Linked DNA regions of Homo sapiens. The protein of the gene in region 2 interacts with the protein of the main gene of each other region in a pairwise test. Each region holds a gene or a part of one and is shown on either strand. Other genes may lie near its edges. The genes, in order: CYTH2, CNKSR1 and CYTH3.

Region 1 (11,560 bases), on a different chromosome or scaffold from region 2:
GCCCTGGTTTAAGAGCACAGTTCCACATGGGGAGGCCCCCAAGACTCAGAGGCCAAAGCTGCCCTGTCCAACCTCCTTCCAAGAAGCCTGACCTTGACTCCCTTCACTGAGCTGAAAGCTTCCTGTGGGCTCTCCTGCTGCCGCGGGAAGCCTCCACTGCTGTGCTGGACTGTAACTGCCCAGATGTGTCTCTCTGGAGCAGCTGTGCACCGTGTCTCCATTATAAACCACATCTAACACGCAGGTGGCACCTACTGTTACCAGGCACGGCTCCAGGCCAGTAGCTCTCAACCTTGACTATGCATTGGGAGCACCCGAGGAGCTTAAACGATGACTGATGGCCCTTCTGCTCCTGAGAGCCTGACTTCAGGAGTCTATGGCCCAGCCACCGGAGTTTTCGAGTTGCCCAGGCAAATCTCATGTACAGCCAGGGCTGAGAACCACTCTAGTCCTTGTGCTAACCCCTCATCATGCTACGATCCTGTCTGATCCATGCTAACCGACCTTGAATGTGCCAGTGCCACGTGTTATGACGAAGACTCCCCCCTCCATCTCTGCTGGGTTTCCCGACTCATCTGCACCAGCCCTGGCTATTCCCTCCACAGCTGGAAGCCAGAATCTGGGACAGGTTTCCTGGCCTGTTTGGCTCTTTTCTGCCTGTGGGTGGTGTTTCGGGAAGGATGGCACCTGGATCAGCCAAGTGCTCTGGGCCTGATGCCTCGGAGTGCGGGGTCAGTCCTGCCTGGAACCCTGGGAGTTCTTGCCAAGGGGAATAGATTCCAGGGGTTTGGCTCCCTCGGGCTGGGTTAACGCAGTGGAAAGAAGCCTGAGTGAACTCTTCTCCCACGAAAGGACAATGTCAGCTGCCTCTCACTGCCTCCTCAGCCCAGCTCAGGGCCTGGCACAGAAGGGCTCCATCAACATTTGTGGGTCAAGAGAAGGGGTTGGGAAGTACTTACTACAGGCCAGGCCCAGCACACAGGCCTGATTTTATTTTCAGCCCCATTTTTTGGGTGTGGAAAACTGAGGTTCAGAGAGGTCGAATCATTTGCCTCAGTTCAGGCAGCAGGTGTGTGCGGAAGCTGAGTCCAGGGCCCAGGCCCACAAATGTCCTCCTGCGGAGGGACCAGCGGGGTCGGGAGGGCACGTACCCAGCTTCAGGAGCCAGCCCTCCCGGTCCGGGTTGAAGAAGGTGTGGGTCAGGTCATTCCCGTCATCCTCAGGAATCTTGAAGGGCTCATTTCGGATGCTGTCGTACAGGTTCTGAGGAGTAAAGGCTGCATTAGCCATTCGAGCCCCCTGGGGCCCCCCAGGGTTACTCAGGGTGGGGGGCAGCGAGACCAGGGATGGGATGACTCATAGTGGGGAAGAGAGAGGGGTAGTGGGGAGGAGAGGGAAGTGAAAGGCAGAGAAGTGGAGGGAGGCTGAGGTGGCGGAGGAAAGAAGAGATGCCCTGGTGATAGGTGGAGGAGCCGGCTACGTCCTCAGAGAAACAGACAGATGGGGAATGAGGCCAATCGAGGGCCGGAAAGCCCAACAGCCAGAGACAGAGAAGACAGACAGGCCAAAATTGTCAGGGCCAAAGCCTGAGAGAGACAGTCAAGAAGAGAAGCACCCAGAGAGAGAGAAAAAGATCACACACGAGTTGGCATGATCGCACCATCTTGGGGGTGAGGGCAGACAGCTTGGGCACTAGGAGACCACAGGTGGGGCGGGGGTGTCTGTGGCAGGAAGAGGGGCAGGGCTGAGGGGCAGGGAAGGGGGACTGACCCTGAGCAGCTCCTCAGGCAGGTCCCCGCCCTCGTTGATGCCCCGGTTCATGGCCACAAAGCGCTCCAGGCCCGGCTTGTCCCGGACATTGGGATTGTGGAGACTGGTGTTGAGCATGATGACGGCGAAGGACAGCACATAGCACGTGTCTGCACCGGACAGGGCAGGTGGTGACGACCCAGGCATGTCAGTCCCCAGTGCCCCCATTCCCCAGGACCCAGGATTCCCAGCTCCCAGCCCCCTCCCTCCCTCAGACCTAGGAGTCTGGGCCCCAGTCTCCTCTTTCCCAGGACCCAGGATTTGGGGCCCGCACCTGTGGACTGGAAAACCCCAGGGTTGCACAGGCAGTATCGCTGGGCGAAGGCCTCCATCATCCGGTCAATTTTCTGGGCCTCTCCGGGTAGGCGAAAGCTCCATAGAAACTGCCTGGGTTGGGGAGGGGCCAGGAATGGATGCCAGGGCTGGTGGGAGCCTGTCCCCACTCTCAGTCCCTGTGTTAGGAACTGGTCCACGAGGAATCCCGACCTTCCGGCCTCAGCAGTTGTTTCAGGTATGGTCACATGATCCAGTCTCACCAATGGGCATTGGCCACGGGAGTGTTGTGAATCCCTACAGAAATAGCCTCTTTCTGCTAAGTTCGCTAGACAGGTCTGGGGGTTGGTTGAGGCTTGTTATCAGGTAAGCGGGTCTGCAGAGAGCAATGCTGACACAGTGGCAAATACAAGAGGCAAAGAAAGTCGACTTTCTGACCACCATTTGAGCTCCTGGATATAGCCATACCTGAAGGAGGCCATAACCCTGAACTTTTATGGTGCAGGACACACTCAGTTCCCTAGTTTTTGTTTCTGTTTTGCTTGTTTCTGTTTTTTTCTTGAGTAAGGTTTGTCACTTGTAACTAGGAAGGCCCTGACAGGTACATTCCTGGCGTTCCAAACCCCTCCCCCTCACTCACCTGAGGGCCTGCACCAGATTGAGGTCGGTGAACTCATGCAGATCCACAAAAGCATGGAGCACTGCCAGGTTCAGTTCTTCCCTGGAAGGATGGGACAAAGACACATACAGTTTGGAAAGGATGGGGCAGGAATGGGCAAAGGGCAATGCCCTGGGGAAGTCGTGCCCCCTCTACTGCACCACAGCTGCCCACTGCCGAGGGTGAAGTTTCCTGCTGGACTCCCACACAGGCCTGCCCCCAGGGTGGGGGATGCTCAGAACACACTCTTGGGAGGAATATCTGGCTTGGGAACCCTGCTTAGGCCAGACCTTTGTACAGTTGGGAGAAATGCCGCAAACATGTATGCTACCTACTGTCACCTCTCTCAAATGATCCCCATGCTCCCCAGGTATCCAGACACAGCCCCCACATCCCCCAGACATCCAGAGATGCTTCCCAAGCACCCCAGATCTCTATAAATCCCTGATTCCCAGACGTCCACAGATGGCCTCCAATCATCTGATGTCCAGTCCTGTGCACCCTAGGCTTCCAAATGACCCCCACAACTCCTAAGCTCCCACAAGGGCCCAGCGGTCCCCACAGCTCCCAGATGGCCACCCAGTGCCTATGCACAGCCATGGTCTACCCACGGTTCTCAAGCTCCCATGATCCTTGAGAGATGTTCTCTACCCTTCTCAGACATAAATGGATGCTTCCCCACAACTGCCAGGTAATTCCAGAAGGCCCCACATCCCCAGATGCTCTCGGTTGGCCGCAGGCTCCCCTAGCCCATGTCAGTCCATTCTGTCACAGTCCAGTCAGAAGGCTGATCTGCCAGGGCCCCTCTGCGGGGAGGCTGCAGGGCTGTTCCACCTGTGAGCTGCCAGTGTGAGGGCAGGAGCTGGGTCTGGGGGGTGGGAGGGAGGGGCCCCACAGGAGCTGAGTGGTGACCGTACCTCTCCCCCAGGTAGTCCCCGATGGCTGTCTTGTTCAGCCCCTCGCCCTTGTACAGGAAGCGGGCGATCTCCTCGGGTGTGTTCTGCAGCAGTTCATTCTCCACCAAGAACTGGATCCCCTGGTGGGTGGGGACAAGGTCTCAGTGCTGAGGGCCAGAAAGCCACCCCACTCACCTCCCTGGGAACCTCAGCATCCAGACCTACCCCCACCCTCAACAGACCAGGGCCAGGTTTCATTTTCAGCCTTCTCACAGGTCTTAAATAGCATTCTTCCCAACTCATGGCCTTTGCACTTCATGGCCTACCCTCTCTGCCTTTGCCTGGTTAATTCCAGCACCAACAACAGGGTCTGGCAAGGCACAGGTGCTCAGTACATTTTCTCTTTTTTCTGAGACCTGGTCTCGCTCTATTGCAGACTGGAGTGCAGTGGCGTGATCACAGCTCATTGCAGCTTCGAACTGCTGGGCTCAAGGGATCCTCTCACTTCGGCCTCCTCAGAAGCTGGGACTATAGGCATGCCCCAACACACCTGGCTAATTTATTTATTTATATTTTTTCTAGAGATGAGTTATCACTATGCTGCCCAGGCTGGTCTCAAATTCCTGGCTTCAAGCAATCCTCCCTCCTCGGCCTCTCAAAGCACTGGGATTACAGGCATAAGCCACCGAACCCAGCCAATCAATGTTTGTTGAATGACTGAACAGAATTCCAATTGCTTCAGGAAAGAATAACGTGACAACCTGTTAGCAGACGCAGTCCTTCAAGGGCTGTGAACTCGAAGCCCTGGCTAGACTGGAGGTTTCTCTCACTCTCTGTGCTACGAAGACCTCTCTACTACTGCTTTATCTCACTGTGAACTGTGGTATCGGTGTCCAAGGGCTCTCTGAGCACAAGGCAGCATCTAATTCTTCTTTGGGTCCCCAGCATTGCCCTACACAGGATCAGACTCTTGAGAGGCCTCAGAAAATGGGTGTTAAATGAGTATGTGAACAGGCCAGGCACGGTGGCTCATGCCTGTAATCCCAACACTTTGGGAGGCTGAGGCGGGCGGATCACCTGACGTCAGGAGTTTGGAAGCAGCCTGGCCAACATGGTGAAACCCCATCTGTACTAAAAATACAAAAATTAGCTGGGCATGGTGGTGGGAGCCTGTAAGCCCAGCTACTTGGGAGGCTGAGGCAGGAGAATCGCAGGAGGCGGAGGTTAGTGAGCCGAGATCACATCGCTGCACTCCAGCCTGGGTGATAGAGCAAGACTCTGTCTCACACACACACACAAAGAGTAGGTGAACAAAAGCCTTTCCTCCACCTGGTGAACACCTACTCATCCTTCAAACCCGACCTGAATGTCTCCTCCTCAAGGAAGCCCTCCCTGACTCCACCAGCCTGCCTCCTCCAGAGGTCCACTACCCTGATACCTTCCTCCGTCACGGCACCTTTGTGGGAGAGAGGTCAACTCTCCTTTGTGCATGTCACTTTGTCCACAGCCCCTACAAGACTCGAGCTCATCTTGGGACCAGAAATGCGCCCATACAAGTAGAAAGTGGAAGACGACCTTCCAGGCAGGGGACAAAACAGTCAGGAGGGCTGGAACACTTGGTCAGTGTTCAGTGTTCAGAAAACAAATGGACAGCCAGTATCTGAATCCAGGGATTAGGACCAAGTCTGTCCACCTAGAATAGACCCGGCACCATCACGCTTCTGGAACCCGGAGGTGCCAGAAGCCCCTGCCTGGATGTTTGCCCAGCTGATCCCAGTCCTGTGGCCCCAAGCACCTTCTTGGGGTCCATGTTGAACTTCTTCCTGCCCATTGCCATCTTCCGGTTCCGTTGCAAGGTCTTACTGCAGGAGCAGAGAGCAGGGTTGGGGGTGGAGGGTCAATGCCTGGGCATCCCTGGCCTCAGCCAACCCCACGCCCCCTAGGTCATCCGCCCCAGCCCTCACCTGCCCTCATTGGCCTCCAGCCCCTCCACCTCGCTCATGGCTTCACTGAGCTCCTCCCGCAGGCGCTGAATCTCCACCAGCAGCTCCTGCTTCCGCCGCCGGATGTTCTCCAGCTCCATCCGCTCCTCCGGAGTCAGGTCTGGGGGTTCTAGGGATCGGGGTCAAGGTTTAAAAGTCAGTGCTAGGGGCCGTGAGCCTGAATTCCTGCAATCTGGGGGCGGACAGAGCTGGGAGAGGATGTGTAAGGGGCTTCCTATGTCTGCACAGAAGAATGGGCTGGGGGCCTGGATTCCTCCCTGCAGAGGAGAAAGAGCTGGGGCTCTAAACTCTTGAGTCCTGGGGGACAAGGGGAATTGGGGCCCGGATTCCTGAGTCTGAGGGAGAAGGGGAATGGGTGCCTGAGCTCTTAGATCTGAGGGAAGAAAGGGCTGGGGGCCTCGGCTTCTAGGTCCATTACTTGGAAGGGGACTGAGGCCTTGGTTTTCTGACTCCATTACTGGCGAGGTAGCTGGGGACCTGGTTATCCGGACTACTGGGTCCATGAAAAGTCACTACAGCCGGGGGAACTGATGACAGCTCAGGAGAGTTGGGAAGGTGGGGCGGGACATCGAAGGCCCCCGCCCCCCAAGATTTCTCCCCTCCCCGCAACCCAAGCGCCCCTCCCCGGCCCCGGCAGGCGCTGGGCTCGCCCGCCCCTCCAGCGGGAATGGTTCCGCCCCGGCCTCGCCTCCACCACTCCATCCCGCCCCTCCCGCCGCCACCGGAAACAGGCTCAGCCCAAACAATGGCCTGGAACGCCCGGCTTTCGGGCCCCGCCGGAAGCCCGTCCAGCGCCCAACAAAAGCGGCGCGACAAGTCTACGACTGAGCCGAACGCTTCTGGGCGCCGCGCGCCAGGGGGAAACGTTCGCGGCGGAACGTTCAGGAGAAAACGCTCCAGCAACTCCCAGCCGACCCCGCCCCTCCCCGACCTACCATAGACGCCGTCCTCCATGGCGGCTAGGAAGGCCCGCGGGGAATCCGGGGCGGTCCCGCCAGTCGGGCCTGGATCCGCGTTGGCCCGCGGGCTCGGGTGAGCCCGCTCAAACGCCCCGGGAGCCACCGCCGCCTCCTCAGCGCCAGTCCTCAGCGCTGAAAAGACTCTTCCCTTCGTCGCCCAACCGCCCCTTCAGTAGGGACCGCCCCTCTTTTTGACACTGTCCAATCCACAGTGGGCGCTTTCGTCCTCCCCGCCCTCGCCACCAAAGGATCGTTCTCCAGGGCCAACAGTCGTACAAAAAGCCGGTGTAGGTATGTCCGGCCAGAGGTAGACGGCCCGCGGGGCCAATCGGAGTGCAGGCAGGGCAGCAGGCCCCGCCTCCGAAACAACAGAAAGCACTTGACAGGCTTGCTCTCCAATGAGAAGCCCCGGAAAAGTGTCGCGCGGAGGCGGAGCCACGCGGTACAGCCACCTCTGCGCCTGCTCAAAGGCCCTGGACACTTGGAGTCTAGGTAAACCGAGCCCCGCCTCCGATAATACGTTGCTAGGGGGCGGTACTTTGTTAGTCTTGTTGCTAGGAGGCGGGGCTAGAACTGGCTTGTTTCCGTAAGCCACACCTCCTAGCAGGCCATGCTGGCTTCTGACCGCAAAGGTTGCCATGCAACCGGGAGCGGCTTTAGGCCTCCTTTTCTTTTGCATTTCTTCTCCGCGTATTTCCCCTCCTCTCAGCCCCTTCTTACCGCCGAACTCCTTCTTTATCACCATCTATGCCCTCCCCATCCCCCTCAGCCTCTTCGGAGTCGTGGAGTGGTGAAACAAAAGACTTCTTCGTTTTTTCTTTTTTTTTTTTTTTTGAGACAGAGTCTTGCTCTGTCGCCCAAGCTGGAGTGCAGTTGCGCGATCTCGGTTCACTGCAACCTCCGCCTCCCGGGTTCAAGCAATTCTCCTGCCTCAGCCTCCCGAGTAGCTGGGATTACAGGGTTGCACCATGATGGTGCATGCCTGGCTATTTTTTGTATTTTTAATAGAGACGGGCGTTTCACCATGTTGGCCAAGCTGGTCTCGAACTCCTGACCTCATGATCCGCCCACCTTGGCCCTCCAAAGTGCTGGGGTTACAGGCGTGAGCCACCGCGCCTGGCCAAGATTTACTTTTTTCTAAATGCTATGCTATTTGGTATCGGTCATGGGGAATGGAACAGGGGAAGGTGAAATTTAGTGAAAGCACAGGCTCGGCCTTCCTGGCACCTTCTGCCGCTCAGACTCCTCCCTCATTTCTCCAAACTCCTTCCTTTAGCTTAGCATCCTCCTAAGACTCCTCCCTTCCCCAAGCATCCTCCTGCTAAGACAACTCCCCTTTCCTCAGCATCCTCCCACCTCTCTGATTCCTTCTCCCATCTCAGAGGCCTTTTTTCCTCTCTGGCTCCCCTCACGTCACGGTCCCCCTTGTCCTCTCATACTCTTGCCCTTTTTTTTTTTTTTTTTTTTTTTGAGACAGAGTTTTGCTCTTTTGCCCAGTCTGGAATGAACTGGCATGATCTCAGCTCACTGCAACCTCCACCCACAAGGTTGACGCGATACTCCTACCTCAGCCTCCCAAGGAGCTGGGATTATAGGCGCCCACCACCATGCCCGGCTAATTTTTGTATTTTTAGTAGAGACGGGGTTTCGCCATGTTGGCCAGGCTGGTCTCAAACTCCTGACCTCAGGTGATCCACCCGCCTCAGCCTCCCAAAGTGCTAGGCGTGAGCCACCGTGCCCATAGGCGTGAGCCACCGTGCCCAGCCACCCTTGCCCTTCTTAAACTCCTCCCTCCTCTGAGGCCCCTTCCCCTTCCCCTTCCCCAGCCTCTATGTCCCATTATTTGTAACGGAATGTGGTCAAGGGACTGGCTGGAATAGGGAACCCAGGCACCCCTGTAAAGAGGGAAGCCGTAATGGGGGCTGAAGTGGTGTCTGGGCCTCGTCCTCATTTGCTGTCCCTGGGCTGGGCAGGTGGAGACGGATTCAGGGCCAGGACCTAGTTAAGCTGTCGGATTAGACATGGAGGCTCCTAATCCCCTCACTGACCTTTATGAGTGGCCCAGGCCCTGCCCTCCCCAGTGGAAACCCAGGCTGGGCTGCCCTGCTCCCATACTCCTTTCAAACGAAACCCCCTCCCTGCCCCTTCACTTCCAACTTAACATCCTTCCCCAACCCTGCGTTTCCATTGCCCCCATCCCTACCTACCCCAGACACCCTGAGCTGAGAGAGCAGCCAGCTAATTAATCCCATCCGGTTATTACATGGGGATTCTGAGGGATAAAGGGAGATGGAGAAGCTGGAGGGGGCATTTGGGTTGATGCAGCACTTGTGAAGGCTGAATGGCAATGACAGTGGCTGCCCTCGGTCCAGAACACGGGGTGGGAACACGTCCTCCTCACTGTCACTGGCTCCCTCTGCAGTTGGCTCCCAGCCTGCGGGGCACTTAGGTAGATGGTAGCATGGGCAGGGGGCCAGGTCGGAGGACCCATGCTCGAGAAACACATTCGCAGACACATCCGCTAGGGCTCCCAGTTCTTTAATCTGGGGGACAGGTCTCCCCCTAAAACACTCACTCTCCCACAATGGGAAGAACCCTGGTGTCCAGAGCTACCTCCTCCTCCCCAGGTCCCCAAGCTAGGCCAGGGAAGTGACTCTGGCTGTTAGCCACAGCCCACGCCTACCCTTGCCCTGTGATTCAGACACCCGAGTTCAGAGCCAGCCTCCAAGAGTATCTTACATCCCAGCGTCTCCTGGAAGGCCGTATGATCCAGCACTGGGGAGAGGAGGGAAATCCCCAGGACTCGAATGCCCATCCCACCCTTGGTGTAGTGAGGACTCATCCTGCTGGAAAGGCCCCTGAAGAACTTCAAGTTCCAATATCCCGTTTTTACAGATGGGGAAACTGACATGAAGAGGAGTCCAAAGTGACACAGTAAGTTGGGGCAGCATTGGGATTTAGAGCAAAGCTTCTGGGGTCCTTGAAAAGGACCTCATTCCAATTAGCTAGCACTCCATCTCTAAGCCTGTTGTAGGGACCAAGGGAAAAAATAGATAGATATCTGTATTTATATTACATATATATAATATACATATGTATAATATCTTTAAGAAACAGACACACGGCTGGGCATGGTGGCTCACACCCGTAATCCCAGCACTTTGGGAGACCGAGGCAGGTGGATCATCTGAGGTCGGGAGTTCAAGACCAACCTCGCCAACATGGCGAAACCCCGTCTCTACTAAAAATACAAAAATTAGCCAGGCATAGTGGCTCATGCCTGTAATCCCAGCGACTCAGGAGACTGAGGCAGGAGAAACACTTGAAGCCGGGAGGCGGAGGTTGCAGTGAGCTGAGATCACGCCATTGCACTCCAGCCTGGGCGGCAGAGCGAGACTCAGTCTCAAAAAAAAAAAAAAAAGAAAAAGAAAAAGAAATAGACACACATCACTAGGTGTAGGGTTCCAGAGCATTCTAGACTCACCAGCCCTGGGCCTCCCCCTTCCCTTGTCCACTAATTAGCCCTGTGCCCTACAGGGTCTCACCTTCACCTTCACCTTCCAGGTCAGGCCAGAAATGTTGCTTCTGAAGTCCTGAGTCCACCTCCTAGCACTGCCAAGCAGTCCACCTGGAGGTGATGAGAACTTCCAGGCTTTGGTAATGGACAACTCTGTATCCCTGGAGCCTTCATTCCTTTTGGCATTACAGAACCACAAGAAGTCATCTAGAATCATTGAGATTCTCAACTCCATTGGGCAAACTGGAACCAGCAAAATCTCAGATATCTAGAATTGCCACTGCTTCCTTGACTCTGTGATCAGTCTACAGCCACAGAATCCTGATTCCCTTTGGACATTCTAGAATGGCACTTTAAAAAAAAACAACCCACCCAGTGGATCCTTTCAAAGCACTGCTTATTCTCTTGGCTGGGTGCTCTACAGCCAGAAGTTGGAGTTATCTAATATCAAGAACTCTTAATCTGTCACTTCAGTCTTTCTAAACCCACAGACTAACAATGTTTTGTGCATTCTAGAAACATTACTCTTTAGTTTCTGGAGTAGTTCAACTCTCCACGTAAAATCTGTCCTAGACTCACCAGTGCTTGCCTCTGTGGTCAACCTAGACTCACAGAATCTCAACTAATGAGCTTTCTGGAACCACAGGTCTTTTTTTTTTTTTTGGTCTTTGGTCAATCAAGATGATCTTGAATACTTGGGGCATTCCATAACCTTCCCTCCTTAGGTGGTCTAGAACAAATGATTTGCTACTCAGTTGGCTGAGTTGAGAAGCAACACTCCCTTGAATCTTAGGTGAATCCAGACCTACAAACTCTTGATATCTGATGCTGTTCAAGAACTGCCAACTTGCTTCCCCAGAGGCAGTCTATACCATTGGCTTCTCACCCTGGTCAACAATCCAGGTCTCCCCATATAGAGGAATCTAGAACTGCCAGTCTTTTCCTCTTGGGTGATCCAGAATTCTGGTGAGACTGAGGAATCAGGCTCATAAAGGGTTCTCAGGAGGGAGCACAGAAGCAGAGGAATTAAGGTCCAGTATGTCCATGGTGGGTCACCAGGCATGGCAGAACCTTACCACCTAGTCATTTACCCAGCAGGCCTGTCGGTATTCAGGAACACCTGCCCCCATCCCAGGAGAGAGCCCCATCCCTCCATCTTGCTACCTTGGGGAAGGGGGCATACACGGGGAAGGGGACATCAGTTTGCATCATGGAGGCAGGGTCAGCGCCAGGGTTGGTGTGAGAACTCGGGGGCTAGCAGCCCCATCTTCTGTTTCCACCCCATTCCCTTCCTCAGTCTCATCGTCCTCATCTTCCTCCTGGCAGCAGCTCAGAGCAAGTTCATTCTCATAACAAAATGCAGTCAGAGAGCCGGGGAAACTAGACTTGAGGCTGTGGGAAGCCTGCTCTGCCCGTTCATCCAGCTCCTTAGCACTGCAGACCGG
Region 2 (9,208 bases):
GCACTCACATGCTCAGATCTGTCAGGGTATCAGCAGCGAAGATGAAGGGTTTGTACACATCATGGGTGAGCTGAAACACACTGCCAGGTAGTGGAGGAGCATCACTCAGCCTGGGCGTGCCCACCCACAGCCCAGAGAGGCTGGATTCTGGGCGCCCCAGCCACTTGCCACACCTCCCACTGCTACCCCATCACCCTTCCTCTCCCTTTCTGTCTCCATCCCCCAGCCCATCACACCCCAAGACTTAACTATTTCTTCTTCTGATCATGTCCACTTTCCAGACTATAGTTGGAGACATTGATGAGGCCCTCAGCCTTCTCATCCTGGGGGGATCACAGCATGAGGGTCAGGTTGGAACCCCAATACCCTCAAGGCCCAGTCAGCTCCTAGTTACCCCTCGGGCTCCTGAGAGTTGTGGAGAGGAGAAGGCATCTCCTGGGCTCTCTAACAAGTCTCTCTGTTTCTGGAGCTCAGGGCTGGAATCTGGGGTCAGGGTAGGAGATGTGGCCAAAGGATGCCTCTAAGCCAGGAAAGGGGAGCCAAAGATATCAGAGAAACAGCCAAAAAAAAAAAAAAGAGGAGCCTGAAGGCCGGGCATGGTGGCTCATGCCTGTAATCCCAGCACTTTGGGAGGCCAAGGCAGGAGGACCATTTGAGCCTAGGAGTTTGAGACCAGACTGGGAAAAAAGCCCATTTCTACAAAAAATTAAAAACTTAGGTCGGGTGTGGTGGCTCACACCTGTAATCCCAGCACTTTGGGAGGCTGAGGCGGGCAGATCATGAGGTCAGGAGTTCGAGACCAGCCTGGCCAACATGGTGAAACCCCATCTCTACTAAAAATACAAAAAATTAGCCAGGCATGGTGGCAGGTGCCTGTAATCCCAGCTACTCGGGAGGCTGAAGTAGGAGAATTGCTCGAACCTGGGAGGAAAAGGTTGCCATGAGCTGCGATTGCGCCACTGCACTCCAGCCTGGGCAACAGAGCGAGACTGCGTCTCAAACAAAACAAAACAAACAAAAAACTTAGCTAGGCATGGTGGCATGTGCCTGTAGTCCCAGCTACTCAGGAGGCTGAGGCAGGAGGATCGCTTGAACCTGGGAGGCTGAGGCTGTAGTGAGCTGAGATCATGCCACTGCCCTCCAGCCTGGGTGACAAAGCAAGACTCTGTCTCAAAAACAAAAACCAAAAAACCAAACAAGAAGAGCTTGCTCATGCATTTGTTCCTTCAGTAGACACAAACCAAACTGCTTCACACCCCTGAGCTTTCTGAATGCTGCTTTCTCTTCCTGGTTTTCTTTCCCCTTCCCATGCAACTAACTGCCAGGTATTGCATTGTCAGGGGGCATCTGGACTCCTCAGGATGGACTGGACACCTCTGCTGTGCTCCCACATATCCCTTGGGCTTTCCCTTTATCTTAGCACACGGTCCCTACATTGTCCTTGAGTGTGTATTCATCCCTCTCCCCTACTAGCCTCTAAGTTCTGGAGAAGCAAAAATCATCCAATTCTTCTCTGTGTCCATAGTGCCCAGCCTAGAGCTGGGTTCACAGTAGGCACCTGAATCCTGAATGAATAAATGAGTAAATGAATGGCCCATCATTCGGATGGACAGAATATCAGAAGGATAAGGAGAAGTGGGCAGAATAGACGTGATTTTTCGGCCAGATGTGGTGGCTCACGCCTATAATCCCAGCATTCTGGCGGGCTGAAGCAGGCAGAACGCTTGAGCCCAGGAGTTTGAGACAAGGCTGGGCAACATAGCAAGACTCCATCTTGCTATGTTGCCCAGATTTTTCAGGGCCGGGTGTGGTGGCTCACGCCTGTAATCCCAGCACTTTGGGAGGCCGAGGCAGGTGGATCACGAGGTCAGGAGATCGAGACCATCCTGGCTAACACGGTGAAACCCTGTCTCTACTAAAAACACAAAAAATATGCTGGGCGTTGTGGCGGGCGCCTGTAGTTCCAGCTGCTCGGGAGGCTGAGGCAGGAGAATGGCGTGAACCCGGAAGGTAGAGCTTGCAGTGAGCCGAGATGATGCCACTGCACTCCGGCCTGGGCAACAGAGTGAGACTTTGTCTCCAAAAAAAAAAAAAAAAAGATTTTTCTCTATACCTCCTATGATACCTTTTCCAAACTGCTTTTATACATATATTAACTCATTTCTCTCTGAATAAAGTCCCCATTTTACAGATGGGGACATCAAAGCCTTGGACCAGGAATAAGAGTGGATGATAGAATAGAGATGAGAATCGAGGCCTGGAAGTGACTCACTTGCCTACCTGTTTTTGTGTATGGGGTCTTACCTGGGGCTGGCGGTACCAGTAGAGCGTGTGTCCCTTGAGCACAAACCAGCGGCGGCGCCAGCGCGGGCCCATGAAGCCGCCCGGTGCCTTTCGCAACAGGAGCCAGCCGTCACAGTCCGGCCGGCCCAGCTCACGGCATGACACCCGCCGGCGGCTCAGCCGGGTCGCCAGGCCTGTAGCAGCACAGCACAAGCTGGGCAGTGAGGGGCTGGCAAGGTGCCCCCGCTAAACCTACTCCCTGCCTTCCACAAGCATCCCCAAGTGAGATCTCTGAACCCACACTCTGCTCAGAATGCTACATGTGTCATCTCTGAGGTGGGATGACCCTTCTTATTTTAGAGATGAGCAAACTGAAGACTAGAGGCTAACCTGTTTGCTCAGTCACAGCAAACAGGTTAGCCTCTAGTCTGGTGAGAGGCCCAGACTGGGAGCACAGCTCTGTCTGACCCTAGAAACAGAGCTGTTTCCAGGAGAGGCTGTGTGGGAAGGATGGGGGTGGTCTTGCCCAGCATGTAAAGATTTTTAACAGCTCCTCAAACAGGGGAACCCCCACCTAGTCCAGCGCACCTCATACCTTTTGATTTCTTCCGACCAACAGGACTCTGAAAGGACAGCAGAAGGGTGAGAGAAGGATCTAGGTCCAGACCCACCCACCCCCTTGCTAAGCCCCTGAGCTTACCTTGTCAGGGGATTCAGGGAGCCCTGGAGTCCCTGCTACCCCTGCTGGGAGTATGGCTGGGGGTTCCGGGGGGATGGGCAGGGGCTCAGGGCCAAGGGAGGCAGAGTCTGTCAGGGAGGGAGGAGAGAGAGGGAAAGTCTATGAGCCCAGTCCCAGGCTTGGGGTCAGAACTGGGTGCCCAGATGCCGTGTCCGGGGCATCCATGGAGCTTTGAGACTACCTGTCCAGGCAGGGCTGGGTCCGGGACTGGGGTTTGAAGACAGGTCAAAGGCAAAGACGTCTTCAGATGGGGCCCTGGGGAGGGCAAGGGGGATGAGATGAGCCCACGGTCTCCCCACCAAGACACACCTGGACAGAGCCTGTTACCTGGGAGACAGTGGGGCCAGAGACAGTGATGGGCTCCTCTGGTGCGGGGAGTCCAGGACCTGAGGGGGCGTCTGGGGAACAACCAGGAACAAAGCAATGGAGACAGGGGTCTGAAAGCAGGTTGGGGGGCAACAGGGGTAGGGGAGCAGCAGGAGCAGGTACCTGTGGGGGGGTCTGAAGGGAGCTAGGGGGGCGCAGCAGGGGAAGGTGCCTGTTGGGGGGGGTCTGAAGGCAGGTGTGGGGGTGGTGGGGGCAGGTACCTGTGGAGGGGGGGGTCTGAAGGCAGGTCGGGGGGCGGCAGGGGAAGGTACCTGTGGGGGGGTCTCCGGTATCGGGATCTTCTTCAGCACTAAGCTGAGTCCGGCTGGCTCCCGCAGCAGTTCCCTCACCATGTTCTTACGGGGCCATCCCACCTGGGGGACAGAAACACTGGCTGGTATCAACCTGGGCAGGAGGCTCTAAAGCAACCACCAACTCTCACCCTCGTGCTGGGAGCTCTCTCTCAGCCTCCCACTTCTGCCTCCCACTCATGCAGCCTCCTGGGGGCTTCCATGGGCCCCATCACCTGGGCTCTGCAGAGGATGCTCTCACCAGACTTAGCTGGCTCATCTCCTGGAAGGCAGCTCCCACAACCCTGGTCAGAACCCTTGGTTGCCTCCCCACCCACCAGACTTGGGTTCCACTCGGTGACCCCTTCACCTCCTACCATGTCCCTCTCCTCACGCACCACCACCTGCTCGTTGATCTGGACAACCTCGTCTCCAGGCTGGATCTGCAGTCGGGAGTCAGTGGGAACCTGACGTGGGGAATGGGGCCTGAGGTTGGCCTGGCTTGCAGGTGAGAGGCCTCGGGGATGGGCGGCTGAGAAGGGTGTGGGGCTCTCACCTGGGTGTCCACTTGGGACACAAAGTGCTGGCAATTGCTGGTGGTGTGAATTTCTAGGCCCTGCAGAGGCAGAGGCTATAGTCACCGGGGGCTGGGGGGCAACAGGGCCAATAGGCAGGACCCCCGCCAGACACCAGGACTCTATGGTGGGTGGAACTGTGGCAAGAGCTGACCCCAAGCTGGTCCTGCCCAGACTTGCTGTATGACTTTGGACTTGCTACTCCTGTGGGCCTCTGCCTTCTCCTCTGCTAAGAGCCAGAGGGAAGCTGGAGACCCTGATTTCTGAGGTACCAGCTTCTCAGCAACATTCCTAAAGGGACAAGCAGGGACAGGGCAGGGATAGGGCTCTGGTCTTCCCCACTGGTCAAAGATTAAACCAAGAAAGGTCACATCCTCTCCCTTTCTCCTAACTGCCCCCAAGCCCCTGCCCCGTCTCCATCCCAAGGCTGGAACACACTACCTGAGGCCACACCCGCGTGGCCCCTCAGGACTGGGGAGGTGCAGAGCAACGGGAGACCCTGGCCAATCCTCTGGGCCTCCATTTTAGCATCTGTACAAAAAAGGCTTTCCAGCCATGGCAGCACAGGGTTCTGTGGGATCCTGGACCCTATTTCAGGGCCCAGACAAGGCTGCCAAGGGGTCAGAAGTGAGAGGTGGGAGGGCAGGGCTCACCAATGGACTGTCCAGCTGCACCTGCTCGAGCACGGCCTTCTGTTCCAGCAGCTCCTTGGGGCAGCAGACCAGGATGTTGTGGCAGATCCCAGCCACGTGGCTGCACTGGGGGAGGGGAGCGGGCTATGTAGCCTGAGCCCGATCGCCCCTACCCCCACTCTCTTCCCACCCCACAGACTCACGATCCTCAGGACTGTGCCCTCCTTCTCAGCCGCTGGACCATCCTGGAAGTAGAATGAGAGAGCAGGGGCCTCCCCTGAGCAAGGGCCATAAGGGGACTGCCTTCTCCTGGGGGCAGGGTGGGATTCCGTACAGTCCCTCCCTGCCTTCCCTACACTGGCCCCCTGCCCAGAACCACAGGGCCTCAGCGTTTTAACCAGAGGGCTCGTTTCCCTGATACCAGGCCCCCAGAAGTCACCACACGTGCCCTCCCCTCCTTCCCTGTCCTGAGTGTCAAAATTCCCCTGCCAGCTAGGGGACCCCAGGCCCCATTGTCCCATACCCAGTGGCAGGGCCTCCTCTCCTCCTTTCTCGCCCGTCTCAATCCTCATACTCGATCCTGGGCTGATTCACAGGTTATAAAAAGCTCTAGCCCAGCTTGGTCTCTAGGGCATGGGCCAAGCCTGGCCCTTGGTTCTCCTACCTCATGCAAGACCTGGCTCAGCTCCTCCAACAAGTCTCGGATCTCCTGGCATGCTGAGAAATCATTTAAGTGGGAGAAGAGGTACCTGGCAGGGGAAGAATAGCACAGTGGTTAAGGGACTATGCTTAACCACTCAGAGCCAATTACTCACCAATTACTCACCTCAGAGACTTGGGGATAATACCTGCTCTGATGGGTTTTGGTTTAGAGTAAAGGAGATGATTGAGACATCTAAAGAGATTAGCACAGGACTTATTTGTCATGTGCCTACCACATGCCAAGCCCTGTTCTAGGCACTGGGGAAACAGACAGTAAAGACATCATACATCAATATCAATTTAACTTTGGCTGTAATGAGTATCATGAAACATTGGATAATGAGTTTATAATAAGTTATTATTTATTATTTATTAATAGTATAGCTTGGAGAGTGTACAACAGGGAAGGCTTCCCCGAGATGACATTTGAGGTGGGGTCTGTAGGACAAGCAGCAGCCAGTGCACAGGGTTGGGGAGGCTCTCCATTCAGTGGTTGTTGATGAGATCGATTATTACAAGCTGGAGGGTGGGGTGGGAACTCTGGCATCCCAGTGCCCCTGCACAGGTGGATTAATCCCTCTGCCCTGCTCCACCATATCTTTTTTTTTTTTTTTTTTTTTTTTGAGAGGGAGTCTCACTCTGTCGCCCAGGCTGGAGTACAGTGGCATGATCTCGGCTCACTGGAACTTCCACCTCCCAGGTTTGAGTGATTCTCCTGCCTCAGCCTCCCCAGTAGCTGGGATTACAGGTGCGCACCACCACACCTGGCTAATTTTGTATATTTTTGGTAAAGATGGGGTTTCACCATGTTGGCCAGGCTGGTCTCCAACTCCTGACCTCAAGTGATCTGCCCGCTTCGGCCTCCCAAAGTGCTGGGATTACAGACCTAAGCCACCACGCCTGGCTCACCATATCTGAACAAGAGCCAAGATCTGTTTTTCTCTCCCACGCCCTGAAGGAGGCCAAGGATGACAATAGTCCCTCACTCGTCACCCCAACCCGGGTACCTGCTGAGCCAGAAGAGGAGGGCGTCAGCTTCATGCAACAGCTCCACAGCTGCACAGAGGACATCAATAGGGGTCTTGGCACAGTCCCCCAGGCAGCCTTGGACTATGCTCTGGAAGTCATGGGTTGCCCCCAGAAGTCCCTCTGTCAGGCTTTGCAGGTTCTCTGTCTGTAGCCTGGAGCTCTGTGCCAGAAAGAGGGCAAGTCACCTCCCTGGCAGCAGCCAGCCCCCCATCACACCCCCCAGGTTGGTGGAAGCTGCAGCCAGTGTGACCAGCATTCACTCACCAGGGCCTGGAGCTGTTCCACCCCGCCCAGGATGAGCTCCTGGTGTCCCAGAGACCGCACAGCCAGAGCCTCGAGGCTTTGGGGGCAGAGCTGGAGCAGGTTCTTGCCAGGCAGCTGCCAGTCCTCAAAGGGATAGTCCTGCAGGGAGTCGTCAAGACCTGGAGGGAGAGTAAGGCTCAGCTCGGGGAAGCAGAGGTGTCAGGACCTTTTGGGATGGTTCTTCATGCCTGCAAAGCTCTTTTCCCTCTAGTCTAACCCTAATGACAACTCTGACACCCAGGCTGTTCTGCCCATTTCACAGATGAGGCCACTGAGTTGAGAAGCAGGAAAGTATAGGACATGGGTTCTTAAAAGTGGCCCCCAGACCAGCAGCAGCAGACTCACCGGAGAACTTGTTAGAAATGCAAATTATCAGGCCTCACCCCACACCTGCTGAATCAGAAACTCTGAGGTTGGGGCCCAGCAGTCTTTTTTTTGTTTTTGTTTTGTTTTTTCTTTTTGAGACAGGGGCTTGAGACACAGTCACGGCTCACTGCAGCCTTGACCTCCTAGGCTCAATCCATCCTCCCACCTCAGCCTCCCAAGTAGCTGGGACTACAGGCACACACCACCACACCCAGCTAATTTTTGTATTTTTTGCAGAGGTGGGATTTCACCATGTTGCCCAGGCTAGTCTCGAACTCCTGGGCTCAAGCAATTTGACTGCCTCAGTCTCTGAAAGTGCTAGAATTACAGGTGTGAGCCACGACGCCCAGCCAGCAGTTTGTATTTTAATGCAGGTGACTGTGATGCTCCCTTAAGTTTGAGAACTAATGATACAGGGGATAAGAACAAGAGGCTATGGAGTCACTGAGACACTGTGAACACTTGAGCAAGTAATAGCACTGCTCTGTGCCCAGTTTTCTCACCTGTAATGTGAGAATAATAAAAGTACCTACCTTCTAATCATGTGTGTATTGAATGACACAACATATGTCAAGGCCTTGGCCACTGTCTGGTTCGTGGGAGACAGCCAATAATAGCCATCATATTATTATTGCCAGACTTTACCATGACCTACAGGCCCTGTATGATTAGGCTACTACCTCCCTTTCCAGCATCATATCCTGAAGAGCCCCCTAAACTCAACATTTCAGATGCACAGAGCTAATTCCTTGCAGCTCCTGGAACACCCTTTTACCTCAGCGTCCTTGCAAGTGCTATTCCTCCTGCTGGCGTTGCTCTTCTATCTCCTTCACTTCCTTTTTCATCTAACTTCCTCCAGGAAGCCTTCCATAACTTCCCAGGCTGAGTGGGATGGAGGGCTCTCCTCTTGTTCCCACTGCCCCTGAGCCTCCACAAACCCCTGCACTTGACCATCGGTCTTTCCCATTTTATCACAGGCTCTTCAAAGATCAGGCCTTAGATAACCATTTGTCTCTAACCCCCGGCCTGTGCCTGGACAAGGTAGGCACTGAAAAATAAGAAAAGTGTCTATTGAGGGCTTACTATGTGCTATGCAAATCTATAAGAGCTTTACACATATTAACACATTTGATTCTCACTGCATTTCTAGGAGGTAAAGACTATCATTATCCTGCTTACAGATGGGAAAACTGACACAGAGGTTAAGTAGCTTGCTCACTCTTCGAAGGAATTCTTCCCCTTCTAAGCCAGGCTCCTTCACTGGGGGAGGTGTGTGTGTGTGTTCCCTGTGTCACATTGAGAGCACTGGACTGGGAGTTCATGAACCTATCACTCCCTGGCTATGGGCCCCTGAGCCACCTCCTTCCTGCACGGTGACTGTATTGGGCTGGTGCCCTCCCAATAGACCCAGGCATTGAGCTACAAATGAACTATGTCATGATTGTCTCACTTTGTCGACTTCATAAGGTCAGAGTTGCCTTTCCCATTTGATGGACAGAAAAACTAAGACCTATGGTCACAGAGCTGGCAAGCGGTGGGGGTGGGCCTGGAATCCAGCCTGGGAGTCTGAACCCAGCCCTGAATTCCTGCCCTTACCCGGGCTGGTCCTCCTGAGCCTGTCTCTAGTGCGCTCCAGCTCCCCACTCTGGGAGGGGTGTCCTGACTGCCTGCTCCTGGTCGCACTGTGTGTCAGGAGGCCCTTCCTTCTCTGAGTCTGCCTGTGGGGTGTGTTGCTTCCCATCTGTGTGGGCTCGCTGAGCCTGGACAGCACCTTGCCCCTTGGATAGGAGCCCCAGGGTGGGGCTGTGTCAACCTCTTCAGTCTGGCCTAGGGCTTCTGCTTCTGTCACTAGGAGCTCAGGGTGTGGAGCGGGGAAAATGACACCAGAGACTGAGCAAATCATTTCCTGGCTCTGTGTGTCAG
Region 3 (10,732 bases), on a different chromosome or scaffold from region 2:
GAGCTCTTCCACCCGCATGAATTAAAATCTCCCCAATGTTTATCTCCTACCCAAATTAGTCTTCTGAGCAGCAGACTGACACAGCCAACTGCCTACCTACCATCTCCACCAGGATATCTCACTAACAAGTCCATTTTAAATAGCAAAATTGAATTCCTGAGAGTCTGCTTCCAGTAAAGCTGACTAGCTCACTGCAGACCAACATTTCTGCCAAGAACAACTTAAAAAACTGAACAAATTATTAGAAACAACTGTTTGAAGGCATCAGAGAGCTACCCATGCAGTGAGGACTCTGGAGGCCAGGATTCCAGAGGGAAAAGGGGAGTGCAGAAAAGTGAGCCCAATCACCGGGGCCCCTTTTCTCCTTGAGGGATTCGCCAATTCACAGCAGAAGCTGGGAAGCCAAAATACCAAACAGAAACAAGTGACTGAGAATCCAAGAAGGTCAGCAGAATAGCCACCAGTCTTAGGGGACTGAGGGGACAAAAATTAGAGTTCAGGGGCTGCCAAGTAGAAGAGGCCCTGGGAAGCAACCCAAGCTTTCAGTGGGAACCACTAAAGGCTATAACCTAGAAGAAGGGTAAACCAGAATAGACCATGCCTCATAATTTTAAAGTGATATTCCGGCCAGGTGAGGTGGCTCAGGCCTGTAATCCCAGCACCTTTGGAGGCTGAGGCAGGCAGATCATTTGAGGCCAGGAGTTCAAGACCAGTCTGGGAAACATAGTGGGACCCTGGCTCTACAAAAATAAAAAATAATTAGCTGGGCATGGTGGCATGTGCCTGTAGTCCCAGCTACTTGGGAGGCTGAGGTAGGAGGATCATAGGATCATTTGAGCCTGACTGTGCTTCAGCTTAGGCGACAGAGTGAGACCCTGTCTCAAAAAAAAAAAAAAAAAAAAAAAAAAGGGCAAAGTGATATTCCCTTACTTTAACTGCCTGCCAAATCCTCAAATGAAGCCAACAGGCAGGGTCTTGAATTATCTCTATAATTTTTCACATACATTGTCCAGAATTTAATTAAAGCTCAACAGGCATATCTAGAATCAAGATCACATGACTGAAAACCAAGGATAAAACAGACAACAGAACACACTTACAAGGCATCCAAATATCGGAGTTATCAGACACAGACTTTAAAATAACTCTGATTCATACAATAAAGCAGTTGACAAGATAAAAAATGCCAGCAGAAAATTGGAATCTTTAAAAAAAATCAAGAAAACTGGAAAAGACAATAATGGAAATTAGGAACTCAATAAACGAGTTCAACAGCAATTACAGCTGAAGAAAGGATTACTACAATGGAATATAAGTCAGAAGAAGATACAGAGTGAACGATGGAGAGGCAAAGGGATAAAGGACACAGAAAAGAATCTAAGACATACAGGACACGACACAGAGGGCATGTTTAATGCACAGGTAATTACAGTCCTGGAAGGAGATGAGACAGGAAATGCAGCAGAAGCAATCAATGAAGAGATAATGAACAAGAATTCTGTAAATCTAATTTAAGATCAAGCTTTGTCACAGCACTGCCAAAGAGAAGAAAAAGAACAACTAATCCCAAGCAGGATACACTTGAGGAAAACCACATCTGGACACACCACATAACAGCTGAAAACCAAACCCAAAGAGAACATCTTAAAAGCAGCCTAAAGGGAAGAAAAAACACACTAACTGGAAAAGAGTGACAATAAGACTGATGCAGCTGACTTCTCCACAGAATCAGTGGAAGCCAGAAAGCAGTAAAACTACCCCTTCAAAACACTGTAGGAAGGCCAGGCTCAATGGCTGATGCCTGTAATCCCAACACTTTGGATCACTTGAGGCCAGTAGTTCAACACCAGCCTGAGCAACATAGTGAGACCTCCCATCTTTACAAAAAATTAAAAACTGCAATAAATTAACTTGAAAGCCTCCAACTATAATCCTGATGAAACTATCCTTCAAAAACAGAGGCAAGCTTAGCACAGTGGCACATGCCTGTAGTCCTAGCTACTCGGGAGGCTGAGGCAGGAGGACTGCTTGAGCCCAGGAGTTCAAGGCTGCAGTGAGCTATGATGGCGTCACTGCTCTCCAGCCTGGGCAACAGAGCGCGACTCTAATAAAAAAATTGTGTTTAAGTGGAGGCAAAGTAAAGGCATTTTTGACCAAAAAAAAAAATGAACCCTCACAATAGTTTTTTCCCCTGTTCATTAAGCAACACCACTACCAAGCCAGAAACCTAAAGTCATATTTGATTCCTACAGTTTCTATACCTCTAACCTTCTCCAAGCTGACAGTATGTCCATCTGATTCTCCAAAATACATTCCATCCCATAACAAGAGCTCACTTACGAGAAACCTTCACATGTACCCCTGAACCTAATATAACAGCTTTTAAAATATATATTTTGTCACTATAAAGCAACACAAATTAAAGCAATACATCATTTCTTACCCATGAGATAGGTAAATATTTAAAAGTAAGGCAAACACTGTGTGCTGATTAGAATGCTGGGAAATCACACTACTCACAAGCCCCTAATGAGAAAGCAATCTGTTATCTATTAAAACTGAAGCATGCCTATAACTCACAACTGCAATTCTAGAAATATACTCTAGATAAACTCACATTTGTGAGGGGAGAGAAGACTAGGGAGCTCACCTCAGTACCGTTTGTAACACCACCAGTGTAACATTGACATTAAAAAGTTGAACACAGGGCTAGGCCCGGTGGCTCACACCTGTAATCCCAGAATTTGGAAGGCCGAGGCAGGCGGATCACTTGAGGTCAGGAGTTCAAGACCAGCCTGGCCAACGTAGCAAAAACCTGTCTCTACTAAAAATACTAAAAATTTACCAGGGCATGGTGTTGCAAGCCTGTAATCCCAGCCACTCAAGTGGTTAAGGCAGAAGAATCGCTTGAACCTGGGAGGTAGAGGTTTCAATGAGCCAAGATCACACCACTGCACTCCAGCCTGGGAAACAGAGTGAGGACACTAACTTCAGGAAAAAAAAAAAAAAAGTTCAACACAGGACAAGATAGACAAAACGTGATCGCAGTTAAATTAAACAAGGTCTATATATAATCACAAGGATAATCTCTAATGCAAGCTGCAGAAGATTACATACAGTGTGATCTCGGCTTTATAATCTTTTTAAAACCAATTAGGGCCGGGTGCGGTTGCTCACACCTGTAATCCCAGCACTTTGGGAGGCTGAGGCCGGCAGATCATCTGAGGTCAGAAGTTCAAGACCAGCCTGGCCAACATGGTGAAACCCCATCGCTACTAAAAATGCAAAAATTAGCTGGGCATGATGGCGGGCACCTGTAATCCCAGCTACTCAGGAGGGTGAGGCAGAAGAATCGCTTGAATCCAGGAAGCGGAGGTTGCAGTGAGCCAAGATGGCTCCATTGCACTCCAGCCTGGGCAACAAGGGCAAAACTCCGTCTCAAAAGAAAAAAAAACAAAAAGGAGACCTGTACATTGCTTACAGAGGCACACGCACATCTGTTGAAGTATGAAATATATACCAGGCTGGGCACGGTGGCTCATGCCTGCAATCCAAGCACTTTGGGAGGCCAAAGCGGGTGGATCATTTGCGGTCAGGAGTTCGAGAGCAGCCTAGCCAACAAGGTGAGACACTGTCTCTAGTAAAATTACAAAAATTAGCTGGGTGTGGTGGCGCCTGCCTGTAATCCCAGCTACTCGGAAGGCTGAGGCAGAAGAATCGCTTGCACCCAGGAGATGGAGATTGCAGTGAGCTGCGATCACACCACTGCACTCCAGCCTGGGTGACAGAGTGAGACTCCATCTCAAAAAACTAACAAAAACACCATACACCAGAGGGCCCCATATCGAATTCATAATGGCTGCCTCTAAGAAACATTGAAAGCAAAGAGCAAAAGGACCAGGGATTGCTAGACACAAGTGACTTCAACTTTATTCAGTATTTATTAACAAATATTTACTGAAAGGCTACTATGTACCAAGCACTGTTCTAGATCTTGGAGATATAACTGGATAAAAGCAGAAAATATTCTTACTTTCACAGAACTCACATTGTAAGAGAAAAGAAACAAATATGTAATAGGTAAGGCGTGACATGTGCTAAGGGAGAAAAATAGAGCTGACAGTAACAATGAATGTGATTTTAGATAGGTTGGTCAAGGAAGACTTCTGTGATAAGGAAACATTTGAGCACAAACTTGAATGAAGCAAGGATACACCACATGCAGGTATCTAAGAGGAAACCACTACAGGGGCAGCAAGTGCACAGGCACTGAGGCAGGAGTGTGCTTGGCAAGGAGACCAATGAGACAGAGCAGAGTCAGGGAGGAAACGGGAGAGGAGCAACAGACAATGTCAAAGAGATAGCAGGGGACTAGAGTAGTAGTCAAGGGCAGTCCCCAAGGTCAGAATGTTTTTTACATATTGAAAAGGTTATGAAAAAAAAAAAGACTTGTGACAGAGATCATATGTGGCCCACAAAGCCTATGAGGTTTACTATCCGGCCCTTTTATGAAAAAAAAGCTTGGCTGGGCGTGGTGGCTCATGCCTGTAATCCCAGCACTTTGGGAGGCCAAGGCAGGCAGATCACGAGGTCAGGAGTTCAAGACCAGCCTGGCCAATATGGTGAAACCCGTATCTATTAAAAAAAAAAAATTACAAAAAATTAGCCGGGCATGGTGGCACGCGCCTGTAGTCCCAGCTACTCAGGAGGCTGAGGCAGGAGAATCACTTGAGCCCAGGAAGCGGATGTTGCAGTGAGCCGAGATCGCTCCACTGCACTCCAGCCCAGGTGACAGAGCAAGACTCCATTTCAAAAAAAAAAAAAAAAAGAAGAAGAAGAACTTGCAGCCCCTAAACTACAGCGTGTGGGCCATGGCCATGGTAAGGTGGTCTGAGAATAGGATTCTCAATAAACCGAGGAAAGAGCAAACTTTCAGAGAGGAGTGACATGACCTGCGTGTCAAAGGGAATCGCCCTGGCTGCAGTGTGAACAAGGATGACAATGGGAGAACCATGAGAAGGCTTAAGGCAAAAGAAGTGAAAGATGGCACCAAAATTTTGGCCTGAGCAACTGGAAGAACACCACAATATACTGAGATGGAGAGACTTACCAGTAATGCTTTATTTTTTAAAAAACGGACCTAAAAAATGCAACAGAACATTGACAGCTATTATGTCAATTCTGAGTAGTGGGAACAAGAGTGCTGGTTTCATTATTCTTTGTACTTTTCTGTATGTTTTATACAGATGTGTTTTATATATATCCTTCCCTCCATATTTCCCACTACCACCCTAACCCACCAAGCCCCGTAACTCTCACCTGAACCACTGCAACACCTCCCTTCTCCCAAGTCCTCCCTTCTCCTCCAAACCACTCTCCACTCAGGAGTCAAGAATATGCTTCTTTAAAAAGCAGGGGGCAGTGGTTGAGAATACGGATTCTGAAATGGAAGGCTTGGGTTCCAATCACAGCTCCATCACCTGCTAGCTGTGAAATTTCAGACCAATTACTTAGCTTCCCTATGCCTCCATTTTCCAATCTGAAAATAGCAATATGATGAAGAGTCAATAAATTAAGACGCAGAAAGTACACAGGACATACAGCATCAAGTAAATATTAGCTAAAATTATTGAAATGTAAATCAAATGAGATTTCCCCGTTTAAAAATCTTTCAGCGGCTTCATGTACTTAGAATAAAATCTGCATTCCTTAGCTACTGAAAGCCTGACATGGCCCCAGTCTATCTCTCCCGCTTCACTGTCTGTTCAAGCCACACAAAGCTGCTTTTAATTCTCTAGAATACTCAGCTCTTGCCAGCTCCATGCCTTCCCTTCTGTCTGGTCCACTACCCCTATAGATTGCACCTCGAAGGGCATTTCCTCAGAGGCCTTCCCTGGCCACGGGCTTTCCCTACACCTCTCCCATCCCACACTTTCTCTTCCTCAACCTCTTGTTGATTTCCTTTAACACATCTAGCATAATACATGATTATTTTATATATAGCTGTTTACCTCTTTTGTCTGTCTCTCCATCTAAACATGAGCTCCATGAACGTGGGAAATTTATCTGCCGTATTCACCACTGTTAGGCACTGATACAGTTTGGATATATGCCCCGCCCAAATCTCATGTTGAACTGTAATCCCCAATGCTGGAGGCAGGACTTGGAGGGGAGGCGACAGGATCATGGAGGCAGATCCCTCATGGCTCAGTGCTGCCCTTGCAATAGTGAGTGAGGACTCCTGAGATCTGGTCGTTTAAGGGCGTGGCATCTCTTCCCTCTTGCTCCTGCTCTAGCCATGTGATGTGCCTGATCCTGCTTCACCTTCCATTATGAGTAAAAAGCTCCCTGAGGCCTCCCCAGGAGCCGAGCAGATGCTGGCACCATGCCTGTACAGCTACAGCCTGCACAACCATGAGTCCATGAAACCTCTTTCCTTTATATATAACCCAGGCTCAGGTACTTCTTTATAGCAATGCAAAAACGGCATGACACAGGCACTAATAGCTCTTGTGCCATGCATAGAACCTGGTATTTGGTAGAGACACCATCAACATTTGAGTAAATGACTACAAAAGAATATACTCTAAGCATAATCTAAAAGCATCCACTTTTTAAACTCTCAAAAATACAGTAGTTAACTTACTACAGAATGAAAAATAGGTAACATTTTATAACCTTACATTGCATATCACATTATCTTTTTGTTGCGGTCTTCCCAGAATATTTTGTTTGTTTGTTTTGAGACCGAGTCTCACTCTGTCGCCAGGCAGTGGCGCTATCTCGGCTCATTGCAACCTCTGCCTCCAGGGTTCAAGCAATTCTCCTGCCTCAGCCTCTCGAGCAGCTGGGACTACAGGTGCGCATCACTATGCCCGGCTAATTTTTGTATTTTTAGTAGAGACGGGGTTTCACCACATTGGCCAGACTGGTCTCGAACTCCTGACCTCATGATCTACCCGCCTTGGCCTCCCAAAGTGCTGGGATTACAGGCGTGAGCCATTGCGCCCAGCTGTATTTTTTAATCTATAAAAATTCCCTCAAAAAAGGTGTAAAATGGGTATTTTCTTACCATCATACTATTTTTCTATGAAACTGCTTTCCAATTTTAGAAAAAGTGAAGACAGATTATTCAAACTTTTTTGAATTTCAAAAAATAAAAAGGCGCATAGTGAAAAGTTTCCTTCCCACCTATATTCCCCATCCACTCAGTTCCCATCATCTTCCCCAATCAGGTAACCATTGTTATTGGTTCCTCCTTTCACCTTCCAGGGAATCTGCATGCATCAGCCATTACCTCCTCTTTCAAAACACAAGAATGGGAGCACGCAATGCACACTTTCCTACACTTTGCTCTTGTAATTTTGTTTTGTTTTTTTGAGACAGGGTCTCACTCTGTTGCCCAGACTGGAATGCAGTGGCGCAATCTCACTCACCGCAACCTGCACCTCCCAGGCTCAAGCGATTCTCCTGCCTCAGCCTCCCGCGTAGCTGAGATTACAGGCACGCACCACCACTCCCGGCTAATTTTTGTATTTTTTTAGTAGAAACGGAGTTTCACCATGCTGCCCAGGCTGGTCTTGAATTCCTGACCTCAAATGATCCACCCGCCTCGGCCTCCCAAAGTGCTAGGATTATAGGTGAGAGCCGCCGCGCCCGGCCTGCTCTTGTAACTTAAGATATTTTGGAGATCTCTCCATGTCAACTAAGAAAAGAGCTTCCTCGTTCCTTTCTACAACTTTACAACCTCATTAACCATCTGGGCATGGATTTATCTGATAAGTCTCTTGCTTGCTGATGGACACTCAAGGCAATAAATAATCTTGTACCTATGTTATCTCACACGTGTACAAATATATCTGCAGGTTAAATTCCTAGAACTGGATTGCTGGGTCAAAGGATTTACACGCCTGTAATTTTTAAAGCTACTGCCTAAAGCACCTGTATCTATCAGGGTCCACCCAGAGAAACAGAGACATCCAGAGAAACCATCCCTTTAAGAATCTGATATAGAGGGAATTTAATATAAGGAATTAGTGACAGGGGTGATGGAAAAACTGAAAAGCCAAACAGGAAATGATAATACAAAGATTATCAAGAGCAAGCTGCTGTTACCACTTCTCAAATAGAGGGTAAAAGGGAGGAGGTATTTCCAAGACTCAAAGGCTAGGACCAAGGGGCAGGAGCTGGAGCCAAAAGGAGACAAGGTACCTGCCAGAGACACTCCCTGAGGCAGGCCTAAGGGAAATAACCTGTTTTTGTCCTTCTTCCTGCCATTCCTCCTGCCAGTGGCTCCCAGTGGCCAATCCCAGCCGGAAGCCAGCTGACCAAGGGCCTGGGAAATGTTGCCTGCAGGGGTGAGTCCCTGCAGGGAAAGGGCAAGAAACGGATCTGAGCCAACAGGACATGGGCTGACCCTGCCTGTGGCTACTTTACACTCTTACCCGTAAATGTTTGAAACGACCTTGCCGTTCAAATATTTCAAACTTGAAACAGACTTTGTATACTTGGGGGTTATCACCTGTCTGAAGGTGAAAGGTGGGAGCTCAATCTAGTCTTAATTTGCATGTATTTTATTATGAACAAGGCTCAGCATCTCTTCACCTGAAGCACAGACACCTACATTGATCAGGGAGTGAAGGGGTCAGAGAGAAGAATGCCAATTATAGTTAATTCACCTCATCTGCCAGGGATGGTCCATTCAGGACCATCAATCAGACAAATGCCCAAACAGGACACGAAGACAATCCCAATGAGCCAAACTAGCCAGCTACCCTCCAATTAGCTCAAGAACTGTTCTCGAAAAACTGAAAGGCAACAAAGTCCCATAGGAATTAAAAACGACTTAACTACACTCTGCACACACTGTAAGGAACAATGTGTTCTTGTAATCTTGTGCCCCCCACTCGCTCCTCTTGTAACTGCCTTCCAGCCATTCATGCCACCATCCTCTCTCTCCTTATCTTGCATTGAAAGAACAATACAGTGGACAAAAAGCTAAATTAACTTATAAAAATAGCAAGTAGGAATCAATTTTTCAAGTCTTTTAACCTGACCATTAACAAAAAAAAGACCTTTTCAATTATCTTTGGCTTCTACCATAACTACTGTTTGAATAGATTATTTACCCTATCTTTTAAACAAGCTTTAACTGACTCCCCCAGATACAGTTCAACATTATGTACTACACTCTAAAAATATACCAAAAAATGTTATGCTTTATAATCTGCTGGCAGCTGAAACGGTTTTCTTTAAAAGAGCTCAACTTTATTTTTTTAAACATGAATTTTAAAGCATTTAAAAATCTAAAAGGTATTAACTGTAAAGAGGTATGTTAACTTCAAAACTTACAACAGCCAAGAGTTAAATGTAAGCACATAAAGTTTATACAATAATTACAATATCACTCATATTTCAAAACTTTGCTTTTCACCTGTTTCAAAAATAAATATCCTAATATTGCCAAAAATATTTTTAAGTGTCTGTCACAAAGCAAGGGAGAAAGCTAGTCATAAACTAAATCAATAAAGGTTAAAAGTTATTTTCCAGCACCTAACATGCTGGCTAGCATTTTGATGGGCAATCAATAAATAAATCTTCATTGTTGAATGTTCCAGTGAGATGAATTAAATGATACACTTAAAACATTCACGTCTTTGATGGTTTTTTTCCAATCTGAAATACACACTTATTCCAGAAACCTGGAAAATATAAAAAGAAAATAAAATAATCCATAATGTCACCAATGTTTATGTTGTTTAAACCATGATGTATAAAACTGCTTATTTTAATGGTTGTAAAATACTTCAATAAACTTCCCATAATTTACCTCACCATGCCCCTGCTGTTGGCGTTGCTGTTTCCAATTTTTTGCTATTTTAAACAGCATAATACACATCTTTATACGTGAGGGGTTTATTTCAAGGTTGCTTCCCTGTGATATATTCCCAGAAGAGATACTAACAACCCAAGGACAATTTTAAGACTTTTGATACTTCATATCATCCTTTGTTATAGTACTCAAGACCTGCAAATTGCTGGAGCACATTAAAGCCTCCTCTTTTCCTCTTTATTCCTGCTTTAATCTTCAAGTCTACATTTCTTTACTCACAGAGCCCAAAGCACCTTACAAACAAAACTGCCAAGCCAGCTAGCTGCCTTGACGCTAATGTCCAACGTCTGCATATTACAGTTGTCTTTCTTTTCTAACAAGGGAAAACAGCTATGCCCAAATTGTGACAGGCAGGAAACACGACATCCACCGGGAACCCATTCCTTAGGATCTCATGGCTCCAGACAGCCTGACTGTAGGAGGGTTCGCAACTGGGCGCCTTCGTTCCACAGCGCTCCCATCAACACACCCACTCGGTGCCACAGTGCTACCCCTAGCTTCAACTATAAGAACTGAACTCGCCAAATGCCATGACGGGTGCCAACTTCCCACCATCCTGGCTGCATCGCGTCTTTCAGCAAAAAAACATCTCCCTCTGAGCAGCACTTGAATTCTGGAAGGCACCTTGATGATGAACCACTTCATCCTGAAGCATTCAATACTGCTGATTCTTACAGGCAGCTGCACCGGCAGCCTGTAATTAAGATTTCTCTAAACTGCTCCCTTATTACATGGGGTTCTGATGATTCTGATGATTTCTCTGTCAGCTCAAAGGAGATCTTCAGGAAAAAAAAAAAAAGTCTAGAGAACCTCAACTTCGGCTGTTCCTGTAAAAACACG

Evidence for each region.
Region 1: the proteins of CNKSR1 (region 2) and CYTH2 interact in binary tests that used the Homo sapiens proteins (3 or more experiments, as listed by UniProt).
Region 3: the proteins of CNKSR1 (region 2) and CYTH3 interact in binary tests that used the Homo sapiens proteins (3 or more experiments, as listed by UniProt).

The regions. Positions count from the first base shown.
Region 1 is NC_000019.10:48,464,541-48,476,100, reverse strand, and holds the start of CYTH2 (cytohesin-2), read right to left. Parts: upstream 6,733-11,560; 5' UTR 6,594-6,732; coding exon 6,575-6,593; exon of another isoform or gene 6,568-6,574; intron 6,463-6,567; exon of another isoform or gene 6,143-6,462; coding exon of another isoform or gene 6,058-6,142; intron 5,749-6,057; coding exon 5,601-5,748; intron 5,499-5,600; coding exon 5,432-5,498; intron 3,777-5,431; coding exon 3,658-3,776; intron 2,804-3,657; coding exon 2,723-2,803; intron 2,197-2,722; coding exon 2,084-2,196; intron 1,920-2,083; coding exon 1,771-1,919; intron 1,264-1,770; coding exon 1,152-1,263; intron 1-1,151. Other genes in the region: KCNJ14 (ATP-sensitive inward rectifier potassium channel 14), read right to left, coding at 11,324-11,560. UniProt on the Homo sapiens protein: Acts as a guanine-nucleotide exchange factor (GEF). Promotes guanine-nucleotide exchange on ARF1, ARF3 and ARF6. Activates ARF factors through replacement of GDP with GTP.
Region 2 is NC_000001.11:26,178,283-26,187,490, reverse strand, and holds part of CNKSR1 (connector enhancer of kinase suppressor of ras 1), read right to left. Parts: intron 7,039-9,208; coding exon 6,881-7,038; intron 6,777-6,880; coding exon 6,595-6,776; intron 5,635-6,594; coding exon 5,550-5,634; intron 5,131-5,549; coding exon 5,089-5,130; intron 5,012-5,088; coding exon 4,907-5,011; intron 4,295-4,906; coding exon 4,235-4,294; intron 4,146-4,234; coding exon 4,077-4,145; coding exon of another isoform or gene 4,056-4,076; intron 3,763-4,055; coding exon 3,661-3,762; intron 3,421-3,660; coding exon 3,350-3,420; intron 3,278-3,349; coding exon 3,204-3,277; intron 3,091-3,203; coding exon 2,984-3,090; intron 2,907-2,983; coding exon 2,879-2,906; intron 2,478-2,878; coding exon 2,305-2,477; intron 324-2,304; coding exon 250-323; intron 81-249; coding exon 9-80; intron 1-8. UniProt on the Homo sapiens protein: May function as an adapter protein or regulator of Ras signaling pathways.
Region 3 is NC_000007.14:6,260,808-6,271,539, forward strand, and holds part of CYTH3 (cytohesin-3), read right to left. Parts: intron 1-10,732. UniProt on the Homo sapiens protein: Promotes guanine-nucleotide exchange on ARF1 and ARF6. Promotes the activation of ARF factors through replacement of GDP with GTP. Plays a role in the epithelial polarization.